3 linked regions of the Homo sapiens genome follow. The protein of the gene in region 2 purifies or fractionates together with the protein of the main gene of each other region. This does not show direct contact. Each region holds a gene or a part of one and is shown on either strand. Other genes may lie near its edges.

The links.
Region 1: the proteins of DYNLRB1 (region 2) and DYNLT2B purify together in Homo sapiens (affinity purification with mass spectrometry; one large-scale study listed by BioGRID and IntAct). This does not show direct contact.
Region 3: the proteins of DYNLRB1 (region 2) and SEPTIN2 fractionate together in Homo sapiens (co-fractionation; one large-scale study listed by BioGRID). This does not show direct contact.

Annotation. Positions count from the first base shown.
Region 1 is NC_000003.12:196,290,569-196,294,242, forward strand, and holds the end of DYNLT2B (dynein light chain Tctex-type protein 2B), read right to left. Parts: intron 807-3,674; coding exon 759-806; coding exon of another isoform or gene 736-758; 3' UTR 651-735; downstream 1-650. UniProt on the Homo sapiens protein: Acts as one of several non-catalytic accessory components of the cytoplasmic dynein 2 complex (dynein-2 complex), a motor protein complex that drives the movement of cargos along microtubules within cilia and flagella in concert with the intraflagellar transport (IFT) system.
Region 2 is NC_000020.11:34,536,837-34,540,488, forward strand, and holds part of DYNLRB1 (dynein light chain roadblock-type 1), read left to right. Parts: intron 1-3,597; coding exon of another isoform or gene 3,598-3,620; exon of another isoform or gene 3,621-3,652. UniProt on the Homo sapiens protein: Acts as one of several non-catalytic accessory components of the cytoplasmic dynein 1 complex that are thought to be involved in linking dynein to cargos and to adapter proteins that regulate dynein function.
Region 3 is NC_000002.12:241,346,824-241,350,475, reverse strand, and holds part of SEPTIN2 (septin-2), read right to left. Parts: intron 2,343-3,652; coding exon 2,285-2,342; intron 404-2,284; coding exon 302-403; 3' UTR 273-301; intron 1-272.

The sequences.
Region 1 (3,674 bases), on a different chromosome or scaffold from region 2:
ATGCAAATAAAATGACATAAAAACTGTTCATAACATCATGAGAAATGAAAAATGAGGGTACAAAATTATATGTTTTTTAAACCTTGGAAATAAAAAACATTGGTAGAAAATATACCAAAATTTTTACCATTGGTTATGTTTGAACAATTGAAATGGCTTTTCCCCTACTTTTTTCTCTGTGTTCCAGTGTAACAAGAATATAGTAGGGCCGGGCGCAGTAGTTCACACCTGTAATCCCAACACTTTGGGAGGCTGAAATGGATGGATCATGAGGTCAGGAGTTTGAGACCAGTCTGGCCAATATGGTGAAACCCCGTCTCTAGTAAAAATACAAAAATTAGCCAAGCGTGGTGGCACTTGCCTGTAGTCCCAGCTACTTGGGAGGCTGAGGCAGAAGAATCACTTGAACCCAAGAGGCGGAGGTTGCAGTGGGCCGAGATTGTGCCACTGCACTCCAGCCTGGGCGACAGAGAGAGACTCTGTCTCAAAAAAAAAAAGAAAGAAAGAGAGAAAGAGAGAGAGAGGGAGAGAGAGAGAGAGACAGAGAGAGAGAGAGGAAGGAAGGAAAGAAAGAAGGAAGGAAAGAAAGAAACAGAACATAGTGTAACAAAATCAAAACATTAAAAATATAAGGCCTAAAACACAACAGATTCAGTTGTCAAACTACTAACATCTTTATTTTGTCAAGATATTTAACAATATTAAAAAGTTCAGATTTCTTCATGGTCATGTCTTTTACCAGCTTTTCAAAGATTCATTCAGTAGTAGAAACAGCCAAATGCTGCTACAACGCAGAATAAACTGTCCTAAAAAATAAATACAACACACACACACATCCAGAATGTTAGTACTAAAGAGGGAATGAGAGCAGCACAGGCAACTGAAACTAACACCATCTCAGATCTTTCCAATTTTTTTTTTCTTTTTTGAGACAGGGTGTCACTCTATCACCCAGGCTGGAGTGCAGTGGTGTGATCTCAGCTCACTGCAGCCTCGACCTCCTACACTCAGGCAATCCTTCTACCTCAGCCTCCAGAGTAGCTAGGACCACAGGTGCCTGCCACCATACCAGGCTAATTTTGTTTATTTTTTGTAAAGATGAGGTCTCACTATGTTGCCCAGGCTGTTCTTGAACTCCTGGGATCAAGCAATCCACCCATGTTGGTCTCCAAAAGTGCTGGGATCATAGGCGTGAGCCACCTCACCCAGCCACCAATTTTCAATCAGGAAGACTTTTTCCTTCTTCAAGAAGTGAAGGGTTTCCAGAGTATAGCTACACTATTGCTTGCCTGAGGGTGACTACAAAATTGCTTGCTAAAAGGTTAGGATGGGTAAAGAATTAGATTTTCTGAATGCAAAAATAAAATGTGAACTAATGAACTTTAGGTAATACATATTCATAAAATAATTATTCACATATTTCCTGATTTATCACAGAAATAATGTATGAAATGCTTTGAGTTTCTTGGAGTAAACTCCATTACTCATCCCAAGAAACCATATTATAAGTATCACTGATAATAAGAACAACAGGACCTTGTCATAAATTCTGGATAAGAGAAATAGTCTCTGGGTGTTTGTTCTTAATTGATAAAATTTACTTGTCCATCTTTTAGTTCAGAATCACAAAATGCTTTCCAGAGCCCAGTCAAATTGCTTAAAACATTTTTAGGCATTTATTACAAGATTTCCACCTGCCTCAGCAACTCCTGCACCACTAACCTCACCTCCAGCCTGGTAATGATGGGATTAAAACAATTCCAACTCAAGTACCTGATGATTAACCAAAAGCAAAATTCTTTGGTTTAGCCCAGCTCCCTGGCTCCTTGGGTGGATAACTCTGAACTGTGTTCTACGACAGTGCTGTGATAAAGGACCTGCTTTGTTTTTAACTTCCGGTCCTTCATGGAAGGATGCTTTTGTAAAATGCAATAAAAATAGGTAACTCAGAACATGAAATGAAAAAAAGGAACATACAAATACAGCCCCAATTTTTTTCTTAGATTCACTGCACAGAAGATTACTTTGTCAAATTGCTGTAAGAGTTTCTAAACCAACCCTTATACTCAGTGTATTGTTTACCTCATCATGGACCTGTAACAAACAGGTCACAGAGCCGTGCTGGTCTGTGCACCCCACTGTGAGTGGCCCTGTTCTACAGCACCACCCAGAGTTCTCCAACAGGACTGAGCCCTGTCATCCAGCAGTTTTCCGCTCAATACCACATGATTTTCCCTCCTTTCTCATTTCCTCTGCCTCTACTAATGTTTCCTGGAATCTCCCAAATAAAGTGCTTTTTTTTTGAGACAGAGTCTTGCCCTCTCGCCCAGGCTGGAGTGCAGTGGCACAATCTTGGCTCACTGCAACCTCCGCCCTCTGGGTTCAAGCAATTCTCCTGCCTCAGCCTCCCAAGTAGCTGGGACTACAGGCGCCCGCCACCTTGCCCGGCTAGTTTTTGTATTTTTAGTAGAGATGGGGTTTCACCATGTTGGCCAGGCTGGTCTTGAACTCCTGACCTCAGGTGATCCACCCGCCTCGGCCTCCCAGAGTGCTGGGATTACAGGCGTGAGCCACCACACCCAGCCTAAAGTTTTTTATTACATATTTGTTCATTTGAGTATTGAGTGGCCCCCACTGGATGTTAATAGGCAGAAACCATGCCTGTCTTATTCATCATTTTGTCCCTAGCCCCTCAGGTGCAGAAGCTGACACATAATAGGAGCTCAGAACTATTTGTTGAATGAATGAATTGTATCATCTAAAGATGCATTTTTTGGCCAGGCCCAGTGGCTCATGCCTGTAATCCCAGCACTTTGGGAGGCCAAAGCAGGCAGATCACCTGAGGTCAGGAGTTGGAGACCAGCCTGACCAAATAGTGAAACCTTGTCTCTACTAAAAAATACAAAAATTAGCCGAGCGTGGTGGCATGCACCTGTAGTCCCAGCTACTCGGGAGGCTGGGGCAGGAGAATTACTTGAACCTGGGAGGCAGAGGTTGCAGTGAGCCGTGATGGCACCACCACTCTCCAGCCTAGGTGACAGAGTGAGACTCCGTCTCAAAACAAACAAACAAGATGCATTTTTTTTTTTTTTTTTGAGACAGAGTCTCGCTCTGTCTCCAGGCTGGAGTACAGTGGCACAATCTCGCCTCACTGCAACCTCTGCCTCCCAGGTTCAAGCAATTCTCCTGCCTCAGCCTCCCGAGTAGCTGGGATTACAGGCACCCAACACCACACCTGGCTAATTTTTGTATTTTTAGTAGAGACGGGGTTTCAGCATGTTGGCCAGGATGGTCTCAATCTCTTGACCTCATGATCCGCCCGCCTCGGCCTCCCAGAGTGCTGGGATTACAGGCATGAGCCACCGTGCCTGGCAAAAAAAACCATCTTCTTAGCTTGACTATTCCCCCAAAGATAGCTGATAAATTAAGATTTACATAGTACTTCCCACTGTCCAGCCCCTGATCCCTAGGGTAGTTAAGCATAAAATAAAACTTTGGTGGGGCTGGGCGCAGTGGCTCACGCCTATAATCCCAGAACTCTGGGAGGCCGAGGCGGGCCGATCACCTGAGGTCGGGAGCTCCAGACCAACCTAACCGACATGGAGAAACCCTGTCTCTACTAAAATTACAAAATTAGCCAGGTGTGGTGGTGCATGCCTGTAATCCCAGCTACT
Region 2 (3,652 bases):
AGTTCAGGGTATGGGGGAAGGGAGCAAATTACTTGGTCTCCAAATCAGACAAATTCTCCACAGACAGTGTCCCTTGGCATAAAGCTCCTGAGAATGTCTCCTCTGGAAGGACAGTGTCATCTGAAAGCTCCTGGCCATTCAGGTCTCAACTTGGCAGCGGCAGCGTCTCCAATTTGGCCCTGAAGACCCACAGGCATTCAGAGCCCATGACTGTGGTTGGTGCTTGAGTCCAGAATGGGCAGCTCCCAAGTAGGGGGTTCTCCTTGGGGTTCACAGGCCTGGAGATCCCACAACCTTGTCAGTGGAGGAGGATGAGGTGGCCAGTCCCTCACCTTGGCAGCACTGCAGGGGGCGCCCGTGCTCTCAAGTCACACTGTCTCTCTCCCACACACATGCGGCGCTGTGCTGGAGGACGGTGGCGCGCTGAGCTTGTCTTACAGAGCATGCTTCTTTGGCTCAGCCTCACTGCTGCCACTCAAGTCCTTCCTCGTCACCAAATGCTTACCTGCATTTTTAAGGCCATCTACTCCACTTGAGAGTAAGTTCTATGAGGGCAGGGGCTTGTAAGCACATAGTAAGCATCTAGCAAATATCCATTGATTAAATAAATGAATGACTCTGTAAACCTCCCTCCACTGCTGACACCCCACTGATATGGGTCAGAAGTGGGGTCAGCAGTGGGGACGGGGTCAGGGATGTCTGTGGGGCATAGTTTTAGGATGAAAACCAGTGATTTGACACTTTGACATACCCACTTTTATGTGGCCAAGAAAAAATAATTGGGTTTTGGTGCCAGAACTCCTGTGGTCAGGAGCCACCACGCAGAGCCTAGGAGGCCCTGGCGCTGAATTGCCTCAGGATGGCTACAGAACACAGGACCCAGGGGTGGCCACAGGCGTAGAGCAGGCCTGGCTGCTGCTGGAAGTGCCCGTTTGAGACTGTAGTTAGCACCCTACACATCGTGGGCAGCCTGGAGCAGCCTGGCCCGGGAGGGAGATCCATGCCTTCCCACCTGCCTGACCTGACCCCATCCAGCTGAGGTACTGCTTCCCAGGCTGCAGACAGCAGCAGGTGTTCCAGACAGTGTGGCTCTCCACATGTGTGCCACATTCACCCCACCCTGGCCCAGAACCGCCCACGTGAACAGGCTTTTTTTTTTTTTTTTTTTTGAGACAGGGTCTAGCTCTGTTGCCCAGGCTGGAGTGCAGTGGTGCGATCATGGCTCTCTGCAGCCTCAGCCTCCCTAGTATACTGCTGGGACCACAGGCATGTGTCGCCACACCCAGCATTTTTTTTTTTTTTTTTTTTTTTGGTAGAGACAGGGTTTCACTATGTTGCCCAGGCTGGTGTCAAACTCCTAGGCTCAAGCGATTCTCCCACCTCAGCCTCCCAAAGTGCTGGGATTATATGCGTGAGCCACCATGCCCGGCCAAGACATTTTAACACAAACTTTTGTTAGCTGGACATGGTGGCACCAGTATTCCCAGCTACTCGGGAGGCTGAGGCAGGAGGATCGCTTGAGCCTGGGCAGTTGAGGCTGCAGTGAGCCATGATCACGCCACTGCACTCCAGCCTGGGCAACAGCGAGACCCAGTCTCAAAAAACAAAACAAAAAAAACAGACTTCTAGTTTTCACTTATTAACTTCACTAGTATTAAAGCTGAGGTAACTAACTCAGCCTACACAACCTTCAACACACACTACCTCTCACAAAGCACCTGAAGTGGTATTGTTGCATTTAGGGCTTGATGATTTGGAGTAAAAGACACTGATGTTACCGATTGTGCCTATTTTTATCAGTGGCTTGTTAATTATTTCTGTTTTCATTAGTGATTTTTATGTATGCAGATTGGTTAGCCATGAAACTGTTAGTCACTTCATTTCTGTTTCTTCCCTGTTGCAACAGCCCATCTTCGTGGGAAGAACCAAGCTTTAGGCTTGGCTCTGAACAGCCACAAAGTGACTTGGCTGAGGTCCTGCCATTTCGCTCATGCTCAGCAGGGGGCAGCAGACCAGGGCAGTTCAGAGTATGGGGTCAAACCCAGGTCCCTGTCCCCACTCCACCTGTGGATTTACCCTGGATTGGGCAAGCCCTTTAACTCTCTGAGGCTCCGTGTTCTCAGAGTGACTCGAGGATTCACTGAGGTGCCGTGTGAGAAGTGGGTGGCCCAGACCTGGACACAAAGAAGCCTTGATCAATGTTTGCAGTTTGATTAAGTGGGTAAATCTGCATATATAAAAATCACTAATGAAAACAAATAATTAACAAGCCACTGATAAAAATAGGCACAATCGGTAACATCAGTGTCTTTTACTCCAAATCATCAAGCCCTAAATGCAACAATACCACTTCTCCAGTTACCTCTTCAGTGAAACGGGAGGCACTCAGGCTCACCTCCAAGGACTTGGACTTGCTGTGATTTAATGGTGGACATTCCTCCTTACAGGGCCAGATCCCTGGAGCTGGAATCCAGGCTGCTTTGTCCCATTTTGAAATTTTCTTATTCAGAAGGTTCTGGAAAGCCAACAAATTGAGTTTGTGACAGAAATTGACATTAACTGGCTGGGTGTGGTTGCTCACACCTATAATCCCAACACTTTGGGAGGCTGAGACAGGAGGATCACTCGAGCCCAGGAGTTTGCAACCAGCTTGGGCAACATAGTGAGACCCCATCTGTACAAAACTTTTTTTTTTTCTTAATGGAGTCTCACTTTATCACCCAGGCTGGAGTGCAGTGAGGCGATCTGCAACTTCTGCCTCCCAAGTTCAGGCAGATCTCCTGCCTCAGCCTCCCAAGTAGCTGGGATTACAGGCACCTGCCACCAAGCCTGGCTAATTTTTGTATTTTTAGTAGAGATGGGGTTTCACCATGTTGGCCAGGCTGGTCTTGAATTCCTGACCTCAAGTGATCTGCCCACCTTGGCCTCCCAAAGTGCTACGTGAGCCACCACGCCTGACCTTCTACAAAAAACTTTTTAAAAATTTACCCAGGTTTGGTGGGGTGTGCCTGTAGTCCCAGCTACATGGGAGGCTGAGGCGGGAGGATCACCTGAGCCCAGGAGGTCAAGGCTGCAGCGAGTCATGATCGCACCACTGTACTCAGCCTGGGTGACAGAGCTCTTGCTCTGTCTCGCGGAGGGGAAAAAAAGAGAGAGAGAAAAAAGAAAATGACATTACCCAAGTCCAGTGAAGTATGTCGGAATTCCATCTTTGACACTAAGTAGCTGGGTAACCTTAAGCCAGTGGTCCTCCCACAGCCTACAACATCAGCATCACCTGGGAACTTGTTAGAGAAATGCAAACTCTTGGGCTTTGCCCCAGCCCCACTAAATGATGGTTCTGGGCGTAGAGCCCTCCAGGTGGTTGGGATGCCTGCTAGCTTGACAACCATGGCCTTAGGCAATTCATTGGAGCTCTTTGAACTGGAGTCCCCCCACCTGGAAAACAGGGGTGAGAATCCTGCCTACCTGCTGCCACTGTCGTGGGGAGGATTAGAAGAGACGACACACTGTAGAGTGCCCGCTGCCCGGTATGGGGAGGCCCCTCTTGCAGGAGCCCCTGCAGGAATCTTAAAGGTTTATCTTCCGTTTTCCCAGCATTTGGAGATGCTGAACGTTGATGCTTTTTGTTGCTTTCTCCCCTTCCTCATTT
Region 3 (3,652 bases), on a different chromosome or scaffold from region 2:
AAAATAACCTGCAAATGTACCCCAATAAAATAAAAGTTGAAATTATTTAAAAAAAAAAGAAGAGACAAAAATATGAAAAATCTTTACTAGAAAGTAGGTGGCAAAGTAGTGGCTTCTGTTTTTCAGGAGCAATCTCTCCTTGTTTAAGATTAGTGATGGAGTTACTTCAAAATGCAAAATATTAATGAGGCTTAAGGAGGAACCTGTCATATTTAAGCTGACACAATGTTAGTAACTGCCTGTCTTCCAGGCTAAGGGACAACAGGGCCTACCTCTGACTTCTTGATATGTGCACATCACCTTACACGTGGTGCCCGAGAGCCCCGCCATCGCCATCCCCGCCCTGCATCTGCATCTGCATCTGCGCCTGCATCCTTGCAATCATCTCTTGCATGCGGCGGAGCTGTGAACACACACACACATTATAGGTTTTCAAGGTTTGCTGTCTTTGAACATTATTTCTGGGTGTTCTGTGATTCCTAAAATTTCAACTTCTACACCTTCCCAAAATATGACAGGAGTTATTACATAAAGACTTTTTACCAATCAATAAAAAAAGCAACAGCTAAAGAGAAAATCAAGTAAATGATACGAATATGCAAGCCAAACAGAAACAATAACCAAAGAAAGATAAGACAATATGATAAATTTTCTTAAGACAGAGTCTCACTCTGTCTCCTAGGCTGGAGTGCAGTGGCGCAATCTCGGCTCACTGCTACCTCCGCCTCCCGGGTTCAAGCGATTCTCCTGCCTCAGCCTCCTGAGTAGCTGGGATTACAGGCACACACCACCACGCCCAGCTGATTTTTGTATTTTCAGTAGAGACGGGGTTTCACCACATTGGTCAGGCTGGTCTCAAACTCCTGACCTCGTGATCCACCCGCCTCCGCCTCCCAAAGTGCTGGGATTACAAGCGTGAGCCACCGCGCCCGGCCAATATGAGAAGTTTTCTAACCTAAAAGGAGGGAAAGAGACTGATGACAGTGAGAAATGCAAAGTAAAGGGGAATGGGAATGAATCAGCTTTTCTGGAGGGCAATGAAGGCCTCACAATAAAAATAATATATATACATACATATACATATATATATATTTTTTTTTTTTTAAAGGGATGGGATCTTGCTCTTTCACCTAGGCTAGACTGCAGTGGCACAATCATAGCTCACTGCATCCTTGAACTCCTGGGCTCAGGGGATCCTTCTGCCTCAGCCTCCCGAGTAGCTGGGACTACAGGTGCATGCCGACATGCATGGCTAATTATTTTTTAATTTTTTTCTAGAGAACGAGGGGGGTCTCACTCTGTTGCCCTAGCTGGTCTTAAACTCCTGGCATGAAGTGATTCTCCCACCTTGGCCTCCTAAAGTGCTGGGACTATAAGTGTAACCCACAGTGCCTGGCCAAAAATAGTAAATGTTAATTCATCTTTATCCTTATCATTATGATTTGTATGTGTTCAGAAATGCCTCCAGGAAAGTATTATAAAACATTTAAATTTTCTTCAGGTGACTTTGTGGTTATTTTTAACATTTAAATATTTGATCAATATTGAATTAATTTGACCAAAGAAGTATTTTCTTTTTGTTTCCAAAAGGCTAGCCCATTATGATCCTATTGTTTACTGAATAATGTGTTTGCCTTCCAAAACTCCAGCAGATCTGAATGCCACCTTTACAACAGAGCATATTTCCATATTTATGATCTACTTACAAATATCAGTGACATTACTAAATTGTCTCCAAAGTCTTTCAGCTAAATATATGAAGCATCATGTATGCTATGTAAATATCCATGTTTATTATTATATATAGATGTGTATATATAGTAATAAAGTAGTTATATGTATCCTCCTCAACAAATTAAAAAAAAAACTATAAACTTTAAGTTAATTACCAATGATATCTACGGATGTAAACAAAACACCTTCAGTCACAAGAATAGTACTTTTTGGCTGGGCACGGTGGCTCACACCTGTAATCCCAGCACTTTGGGAGGCCAAGGTGGGCAGATCACCTGAGGTTAGGAGTTCGAGACCAGCCTGGCCAACATGATGAAACCCCGTCTCTACTAAAAATACAAAAACAACTAGCCAGGCATGGTGGCGGGCACCTGTAGTCCCAGCTACTCGGGAGGCTGAGGCAGGAGAATCACTTGAACCCGGGAGGCAGAGGTTGCAGTGAGCCGAGATCACGCCACTGCACTCCAGCCTGGGCAATGGTGCAAAACTCTGTCTCAAAACAAACAAAACAACCAACCAACCAACCAACCAATAGTACTTTCCTACTTACCTCAGCTTCTTTTTCCAGCAAGATCTGGTCTTTATTCATGTCCTCATTCTCCACTTTCCTAAGAATCGAAAGAAATCAGAATCATAACACTGCAACAAATAGTTATTTGCTACCCCCCCAAAAAATTCTACTTTAAAATTTAAAATGACATGTATTTATCATTTCTCTTTTTATATTGAGATGGTGTCTCACTCTGTCGCACGGGCTGGAGTGTAGTGGCATGATCTTGGCTCACTGCAACCTCCACCTCCTAGGTTCAAGCAATTCTCCCACCTTAGCCTCCTGGGTAACTGGCATTACAGGCACGTGCTACCACGCCCAGCTAATTTTTTTTGTGTTTAGTAGAGATGGGGTTTTGCCACGTTGGCCAGGCTGGTGTTGAACCTCAAGTGATCCGCCCACCTTGGCCTCCCAAAGTGCTGGGAATACAGGCATGAGCCACCACGCCCAGCCTATCATTTTTCTAATTAAAGATATAATGAATAAAAAGGGAACAGAATGATTTTAAAAAGTTCGAACAACATGAAATGGAACATTCAAGAGACTTTTCTTACTCTAAGCTTGAGCGACAACACTTGCTGTTACCCACTCAAAAATAGGTATTATCTGAAGAATTTGCTTTGAGATGTTATTCTTTATTAATGCGAATGTAGTCACCACATTTAAGGAGCAGGATCTGCGTGAGTGAACGAGGGGCAAAGGGTAAGCTCCCCAAGCACACCTGAGAACTGTGCTCTGCAAAGCACACTAATCTCCATCTCAGGGCCAGCGCCTACTCAGCTTCCAGAGGGTGGAATTTTCTTGCTGCCTCTAAAATCTTTCTTAATGTCTCATTTCCAAACTCATAATTAGACTTCAATGTGTACAACATATGTATCTAGAAATCCATCAAATTATTAGAATGTGAGAATTTTAATGAATTACAACACAGGAAACTTTTGTTGTTGAGACAGGGTCTCACTCTGTTGCCCAGTCTGGAGCGTGGTGGTGCGACCATAGCTCACTGCAGCCTGGACCTACTGGGCTCAAGGAATCCTCCCCCTAGTAGCTGGGACCACAGGCATGCACCACCACATCTGGCTAATTTAAAAAAAATTTTTATAGAGGCGAGGTCTCCCTATGTTGCCAGGGCCGGTCTCAAACTACTGGGTTCAAGTGATCCACTTGCCTTGGCCTCCCAGAAAACTTATATAAAAACATATTAGAATGGTTAAAAAGAAAAGGTGAGTGAGGATGGCTGCAGGACTTTGCGAGGATCGAAGCTGCTGCTTCAACGGCCACTGGCTGCTTGGATGCCACTCATCCTGGCCTCACCCTTAACTCAGGTGCTGCAGTTTCCTAATGGCAACAAGTTTGTCCTCACGTACA